3 separate regions of the Homo sapiens genome follow, and regions 2 and 3 are each linked to region 1. Evidence: fine-mapped expression QTL. A gene starts in region 1. Each other region holds a variant in brackets. All regions are shown on one strand. Distances are from middle to middle. Region 1 holds the start of DNAH8 (dynein axonemal heavy chain 8). Region 2 overlaps DNAH8 (dynein axonemal heavy chain 8). Region 3 overlaps DNAH8 (dynein axonemal heavy chain 8).

Evidence for each region. PIP is the estimated chance that this variant, and not a neighbour inherited with it, causes the effect.
Region 2: its variant is the best candidate, but not a certain one, in a credible set for the expression of DNAH8 in sun-exposed skin (GTEx, PIP 0.59).
Region 3: its variant is the best candidate, but not a certain one, in a credible set for the expression of DNAH8 in testis (GTEx, PIP 0.77).

What each region holds. Positions count from the first base shown.
Region 1 is chr6:38,714,345-38,717,001 of GRCh38, reverse strand. DNAH8 (dynein axonemal heavy chain 8) reads right to left here and starts at 1,691. Exons shown (of 93, transcript NM_001206927.2): 1 at 1,587-1,691. It overlaps DNAH8-DT (DNAH8 divergent transcript), which reads left to right and starts at 1,787. Exons shown (of 2, transcript NR_186581.1): 1 at 1,787-1,936. RefSeq lists a silencer at 1,655-1,704.
Region 2 is chr6:38,811,573-38,814,072 of GRCh38, reverse strand. DNAH8 (dynein axonemal heavy chain 8) reads right to left here. Exons shown (of 93, transcript NM_001206927.2): 25 at 1-19. Among named protein-coding and RNA genes, the nearest start is that of DNAH8, 98 kb to the right of the region's middle. The variant C/T (reference allele first, on the strand shown) is at 1,100.
Region 3 is chr6:38,999,531-39,002,030 of GRCh38, reverse strand. The region is part of intron 88 of DNAH8 (dynein axonemal heavy chain 8); the gene reads right to left. Among named protein-coding and RNA genes, the nearest start is that of DNAH8-AS1, 48 kb to the right of the region's middle. The variant G/A (reference allele first, on the strand shown) is at 1,246.

The DNA of each region.
Region 1 (2,657 bases):
TGGATGCAATCATTTTCAATTCCCACCATCCCTTCTTAAGTTAAATTTTAAGGATTCAGTGAACTTCTGCAAAGTCAACAAGAAATGCATCCTGGTTATTTTCAGGAGCATTTCCAGGTGTTGAACTCCTCCCCTCCTAGGAATACTACAGTAAGTGAGCAAGTTGCATACCTGTGTGCTGGGTACAGCCAATTCAACCACACCCTTTTCTCTTGCACCCATTTCTGTAACCCTATCCCAAATGCATTAGTTCATTCAGCAATATTGAACGTCTTCTGCATGTCTGGCCACTGTGGCTACATAAAAGACTAAGGACTTCTCCAAAGCAAAATGCACAATCAAATTGGTGTGACAGACTATTGAATACAACACAAGATGGTCAATGTCAATGACAGGTGAATTAACGAAGGGCTAAGAGAGCTTAGCAGGCAGCAAAACTTCTGAAAAACAAAAAAAGAAAGAAAGAAAACTTGACGGAGAAGGTACCACCCGAGTCGGGTCTAAAGAAGAGTTGTCAGGAGAGGATGGGAGAGAGAAACATTATAGGCAGAAGGTGGGAACAGTGGCGTACAAAAGCAGAGAAGCAAAAAGAGGCACAACTATCTTGGGAAAAGTGGTAAATTCAGTGATGAGACTTTTGGGCTAGAGGGGAATGAGAAGGGTAGAGGAACGGGAAATAAGCCGGAGGGAGAGGCATTTTTTTTGTTTTATTTTTGAATTTTTAAAAATATATAGGTATATGGCCGGGCGTGGTGGCTCATGCCTGTAATCCCAGCACTTTGGGAGGCCGAGGTGGGCGGATCACAAGGTCAGGAGATCGAGACCATCTTGGCTAACACTGTGAAACCCCGTCTCCACTGAAAATACCAAAAAAAATTAGCCGGGCGTGATGGCGGGTGCCTGTAGCCCCAGCTACTCGGGAGGCTGAGGCAGGAGAATGGCTTGAACCAGGGAGGCAGAAATTGCAGTGAGCCGAGATCGCACCACTGCACTCCAGCCTGGGCGGCAGAGTGAGACTCCGTCTCAAAAAAAAAAAAAAAATATATATATATATATATATATATATATATATATATTTATTTATTTATTTATTTATTTTAATAGCTTTTCGGGTACAGGTGGTTTTTTTACATGGATGCATTGGATAGTGGTGAAGTCTGAGACTTCAGGGTCATCCAGGTAGCATACATTGCAAGCGATATGTAGTTGTTTCATCCCTCACCCCCCTCCCACCCTTCCCCTTCTGAGTCTCCGAAGTCCACTATACCCCTCTGGATGCCTTTGCGTAGCAATAGCTTAGCTCCTACTCATAGGTGAGAACGTGCGGTATTTGGTTTTCTAGTCTCAAAACGGGGAGTGGGTGTGAAGTCACTTAGATGTCCAGTGTAGAGACTGACAAAGGGTAGTGACTCAGCTGGGGTTTTGAAGCAGGGGTTCCCTGGGTTCAACTAACAGAGGTGGAGGACTGAACTGTAGCGTGGATTCCAGTCCCCTAAAAAGAAGGAAAGTGGGCGGGGAACCCGGCTGCATCAGGGCCTCCCGGACAGGGGCCGGGCGCTCACAGCGCGCTCCGACCAAGTACTCACCAGCCGCTCTCTGGGCCCCGATGCCCCGACCACTCAGCCCACTGAGGCCGGCCCCAGCGGTTGCGCTGCCCCGGGGGAGCTGCTCCGGCCTCCGCGGCCCGGAACGAGGCTGACGGTTGGGAGTCCGAGACAGGCTCGCTCGGGGGCGAGGGCTCCGCAGTGCGCAGCTCCCTACGGGGAGCGACTGGAGGGGCACGGGCAGCCCCCGCGCTCCCCAATAAAGGATGCACCCACCGAGCCCGAGGACTGAAACATTGTTTAGGGGACCCCAGGCACTGAAGGGCGGGTTCCTGGAGATGGACATTTGGAGTGCGGTGCCAGGGGCTTGGGAGGATTCCCGCGTATACGTGGTAATACGGAAATATATAAAATAATGTTTTCTATGACCTTTACAGTTTCTGAAGTTACTTAGTGTTTTCCTTGAGAACCTAAAAAGTGTTTCCTGGTGAGTCAGTGTGTTCAGAAACCTGTGACTGATGAGAGAGAAAGATTCTGGGGGAAAACTGACTTCTCTCCCAAGTCCACCCCCTCCCCTCTCTAGTACGGTTCTGCTTTTGCTGTGACTGCCTGACATGATGTGAGCGGTCCGTTTTTAGTTGGGTGTGTTAACCAAAGAAAAAAAAATCAGTCATTTAAATAATTAATATTAGTTTTATTCAGATGTCTTACTAAGGATTGCAATCCGGAGAGTCTTTCAGAGACTTTCTGTGAGACTGCTCCAAAGCTTAGGTACAGGTGGTGGCATGTGATGGGAAGTGGCATCAGATGTGCTCAGCAGTTACATCAAATGAGCTCAGCAGTTACATTAGAGCAAAATCTCATCAAGGGTGGGGTTCAAGGGTACATCTGGTTATAGATTGTAGAGGCATAATCATTAATCCTATCAGCTATTATCTTATTATGTACAGGAAGAGGCATGAGTTAGGATCCTGGAACTTTTGCAAGAAAAGATTCATGCAAGAGATGTTATCATCTTCAGGGGCATTCTTCCAGGGGCTGCACTTAGTCACTGAGTTAGGGGATTTGTGAAATGTAGCTGCCAAAGAATTCTCTGACATTCTGCTGGCAAGC
Region 2 (2,500 bases), 97 kb before region 1:
CTGCTTTCGCCCATAAAGGCTGCAATGAGATGGACATTTAGCTGATGAACCTTACCCTAAAATTTCATTGTTAGTTTATTATGCTACAAAATTCAGTCCGAACAATAAAGATCATTTTTAAAAGGCCAAATTACACAAAGAGAATATTACTTATAACAGAACCCTAAATTGCAGAGAACTAAGAAAATACAATGACCCAATAGTCTTAGAAGTAAAATAGTAATCTCATATACATTTTCTACTATTTTAATGTTGTTCTTTCTCAGTAATAACCTTTAACAATGTTTACTAAAGGCATTCTTTGTTCCCAGCCCTGCAACAGATACAAGATGAGATCACCAGCATATACTTTTATATGCTTCTTTATCTATATTTTCACAAGATTAAACAGGAAGTTTCTGGTCCATGCTTTCCAAAAACCGCGTTGTTAAACAATATCACTCATGCACAGACAGCAGCACAGACGCCTGAGTCCAGTTATGAAGGACACATGCAGAGCTGCAAATTAGTCTGGCTAGCATAGCTCCCTCTGTCTTAACCTCCACCCCTATCCCAGGCAAAATTATAATAAATGTAAACTGTCCATTCTCTTTTTCTCTGGGAGTGCAAGAAATACCGTCATTACTGAAAACTTACACCTCCATTTCTAAATACAAGCAGATGGGGGGTGGGAGGGGATCACAAGAAACATAGAGGCCACAGTTCAAAAGTGAAGACCCAACTTTTAGCACTCAGGGCCAATGGTTCCCAGATAAACGTATTATTGGAAAGGACTGAACAAAAAGAAAGCAAGCAAACAAAACCCCTCAATTCATAGTGTCCCAGTGAAATTCAAGATGTTGCAATAAAATTAGTGTGGGCATTGATTCAAAGTGTGTAATTTGAGAATAAGAAAGAGTTTTCATAAAGTATAAAGGAACAGTTGAATAATAAAGGCAGTGAACAGTGCACTAGATCATTTGGTACCTTATATAGCAAATTAGAGAATCAGCTGAAGGTATTCTCCAAAATTTCAGGTGCAAAATACAAAGAGAGAGAAAATACTTAGAGAAAAGGTAAGAATAAGTAACATTTATTGAATGTTTTAATGTATGCCAGC[C/T]ACTTTCCATAGATTACCAGTTCATGTTCACATTAATTCTGTGAGGCAGACCCTACGATTATTATTCTTTCCATATTGTAGATAAGGAAACCAAGGTAGGGAGAGGCTAAGTAATTTCCAGAGAGTCACTCCGCTCAGAGATGCTTACTACCTAGATACGGCACGTGAATACTGTGTAGATATGGGAAATTAAAGCAAAGCACTCCTTTAACCTTAAGAATAGGCTTTTTTTTTTCATCTTCAAGAGATTCTCTAGGTGCCTGACAGGATTAATGGGGGGAAATCCACCTGCATCTAAACATACAATTTGTGAATTTCAAGAATAAAAGAGAAATCCTGTCAGCATCAAAACAAATACAAGTTGTTAGTTGGAAAGGAAAATCGGATTCGCAGCAGAACTCTCCTCTAAAAACTGAAACCAAAGAAGCCAATGGAGCAGCCTCTGTAGAGCGTGACAGAAAGGGATTCTGATCCCAGAAGACCAAGCTAGCGTTCGTGTGTGGGCATAAGAGAAAGACATTTTAGACAAGTAAGGGTTTTTAGTACTATCCTCATGTATGCCTCCTCAAAAATTGCTAAATTGCCGCAGAACTTGTAAATCAATGTAGCATAGTGAGTTCATACTTCAAAAAAGCTTCTTTTTGCCAAACTCATCACAATCATGGATGGGAGATAAAGGACATGAGAATGCTCAAATACAAGGTAAGCATCTCCATGAAGTAGAAATGGAGAGAAACTCAAGGACAGCCTAGCCAGGGTTCCGGGCTGGAAAGAGGCAGTGACCGTGGGGAGGTTGGCTCTGGTGGAATATAGAGGATGGACAGGACTCAATGAGGGATGGGGCCTCGGCCAGCCTCACTACTTAAGGCCAAAAACTAAGATGATGCTCTCCCATCTGTCTTGCAGATGATGCTGCAAGACAAAATGCGTCAACTTACTTCCTGCAGCTATGGCTTTTCCAGGAGATGCAGACCTGGGGCAAAAGAAGCACATCCACAAATTCCCTGATAAGTAACTAAGTTAGGCTACCCGTGTGCTCCCTAGCCAAACCTGCCATACCCCCAGTATCTCTCCAGGGGCCAGTAACTGTGAAGAAATAAGACCTGGTTCTGTACTCAGGGTTCCAAGTGTCATTTAGAGGCAAAAGTGAAACTCATAGATAGGGAGAGAGAGAAGGAAAAAGAAACACAAAAACAAAGCTCTCGCTCAAAGAGAGCCTGCACATTAAAACCCAAGTATGCGTGAATATGTCTAAGGGTAAGAAAGAGAGCTAACGAAATCCAAAAACGAAACAGAAACTCACTCTAGATAAAAATTAATGTCCAGATAACAAGCTCTAAAGTAAGGGAAAATGTTCAGTGATATATGAAGACTCTTCCAAAAAAATAAAAAATTTGCTAA
Region 3 (2,500 bases), 290 kb before region 1:
CATCAATGTCTGCCCAGTTGCCCAACTGAGAACCCTCAGAGATGGCTTCCTCCTTGCTGTGGCTCCCCAGACCTTCTTAGTTTCCAAGCTCTAGTTCCAAATCATTTCCAGCATCCCCTCCCCGTGACCCACCGTCATCCCCACTGCCTTCAGTTCTGCCCCCTAACTTCCTGATCATCCTCTGTGTGCGGCACTGCCATCACCTCCTAACACATCCTCCTGCCTCCAACCACTGTTCCAAGGTAAGTTTTGACATTTGAAAAGTGATTATTAAATGTATTCGAAGACTCCCCATAACCTTCAGGATAAAATCTGAAGTCTTTCACATGGCATACAAACCTTTTTCATCACTAAGCCTTTTTCTATCTCCAGCTTCTGCTCTTGCTTCCTTCTTTCTTCTTCCCACACTCTACCCTGTGCTGTGAGTTACCTGAAGCTCATCAAGCATTCCATGACTCCCCTCATATTTCTTTGACTGTTCCCAAGTTACCTCCACAGCCTGGAATGCTCTGCCCTCATTTTTTCATCGATTATAGCTCATTCCTAACTAGCTATTAATATTAAGCTCAGCTTAGATGTCTTCACCTCTAGACAGCCTTCCCTAGACTTTCTCCCTATGTGTGCGCATAGCTCTCAGTGCTTGCTTTTATTGTTGTACTTGTCATTCTGTACATGATGACATGCTTGTTTATCTTCATTCCAACTTCAGCCTGAATTATGTGATGGCAGGAAAAGGCTTAAATCTCTGTATGCAAAATGCTAATTCCCATCAACTCATGCAAGCAGAAATGGCCATGTAGAAGGTAGAGTAGGTTAAGTAGATTTAAATAAATGATTAAATAACCGTATTCCAATTTAAAATATTGCCCCAAACTCTTTTGGCAAAACCTTCAAAAGCCACACTCTGCATCGGCCACTCCGCTCTTTAAGCACCCCCCTCCCTCATGCTTTAGGCATACTGGACCTGGTTCCCAGAACTCCCCACACACATTCATGTTTGCATTCCCTTCCTTGGATTGTTCCTTGGTGTGTGCATCCCAGTCTAAGTTCTTGGTCCTTACCGCTCATTATGTTCCTCTTCTTTGTACTCTGTCCTTGACCCCAGTCCTGCAGTCACTTCCTTCCCACCTCATCTCCAATCTGAGAAACTCCTGCACATCCTTTAAGACAGCGGTTCCCAACCTTTTTGGCACCAGGGACTGGTTTTGTGGAAGACATTTTTCCATAGACTGGAGGGGAGGCGGC[G/A]GAAAAGTTTCGGGATGATTCAAACACATTACTTTTATTGGGCACTTTATTTCCACTATTATTACATTGTAATATATAATGAAGTAATTATACAACTCACCATCATGTAAAATCTGTGGGAGCCCTGAGCTTGTTTTCCTGAAACTAGACGGTCCCATCTGGGGGTGATGGAAGACAGTGACAGATCATCAGGCATTAAATTCTCATAAGGAGTGTGTAACCTAGGTCCCTGGCATGCGCAGTTCACGGTAGGGTTCTCGCTCCTATGAGAATCTAATGCCGCCACTGATCTGACGGGAAGCAGAGCTCAGGCGGTAGTGCTCCCTCACCTGCTGCTCACCTCCTGCTGTGTGGCCCAGTTTTAACAGGCCACGGACTGGTATTGGCTTGTGGCCCAGGGGTAGTGGACCCCTGCTTTAAGGCACAACTTAAATGGAGCCTGTCTCACTAGCTTTCTTTGATCCCTAAATTGGAATTGATTGCTCCTCCACCTGTGTTATCATAGCAATGTATACATACCCTGATTTTAGAGTTTACCATATTGTACCTCATCAGCATTTGCCATTCATCATCTTCCCCAACAGATGATGCGCTCCAAGAGCACGGACTGCATCTTACTCATCTTTGTATCCCCAGGTTAGCCAGACAGTAAGTTCTCAACAAATGTTTGTTTGTTGAATTGAGGCCAATTGGCTTGCATTTTATTAAACCTCAAATACAAAGGACAGCAATTCTTCAATATTTAAAGGACATGAAAATTTACTTATTCCTTCTTATGGTAAAAACATAGTATATTGTTATTATTGTTTTTTTATTTCCTGGCACCTTTCAATGAATGTGTGTGTGTGTGTTTGTGTGTGTGTGTGTATAAATGCCTTATTACAACTTTTGTATTCATTTCTAATAATGAATTAGGAACATTCATTTCTAATTATTATATATCTATTATATAATATGACAATACAATATAATAATAAATACATCTATAGATATTAGAAATATCTATCTTTCTATCTATCTCTTCTTGAGTCTTTGACAATTGATAAGTTCATTTGTTTTCATAGGATATTTTCACAGGATTCCCCCTCTCAGAGTTACTTGTATTTTTCTTATACTTTATATGACTTTTAAAAACTGTGATCATGCCCTACTTCAAAATTCAGGAATGGGTTGCAAATGCCTTTTGTGCCATATATAAATAGTCCTCAAAACACAGGAGAATCAGAAAGATATAATTTGAGAGTGAAGTAAAACT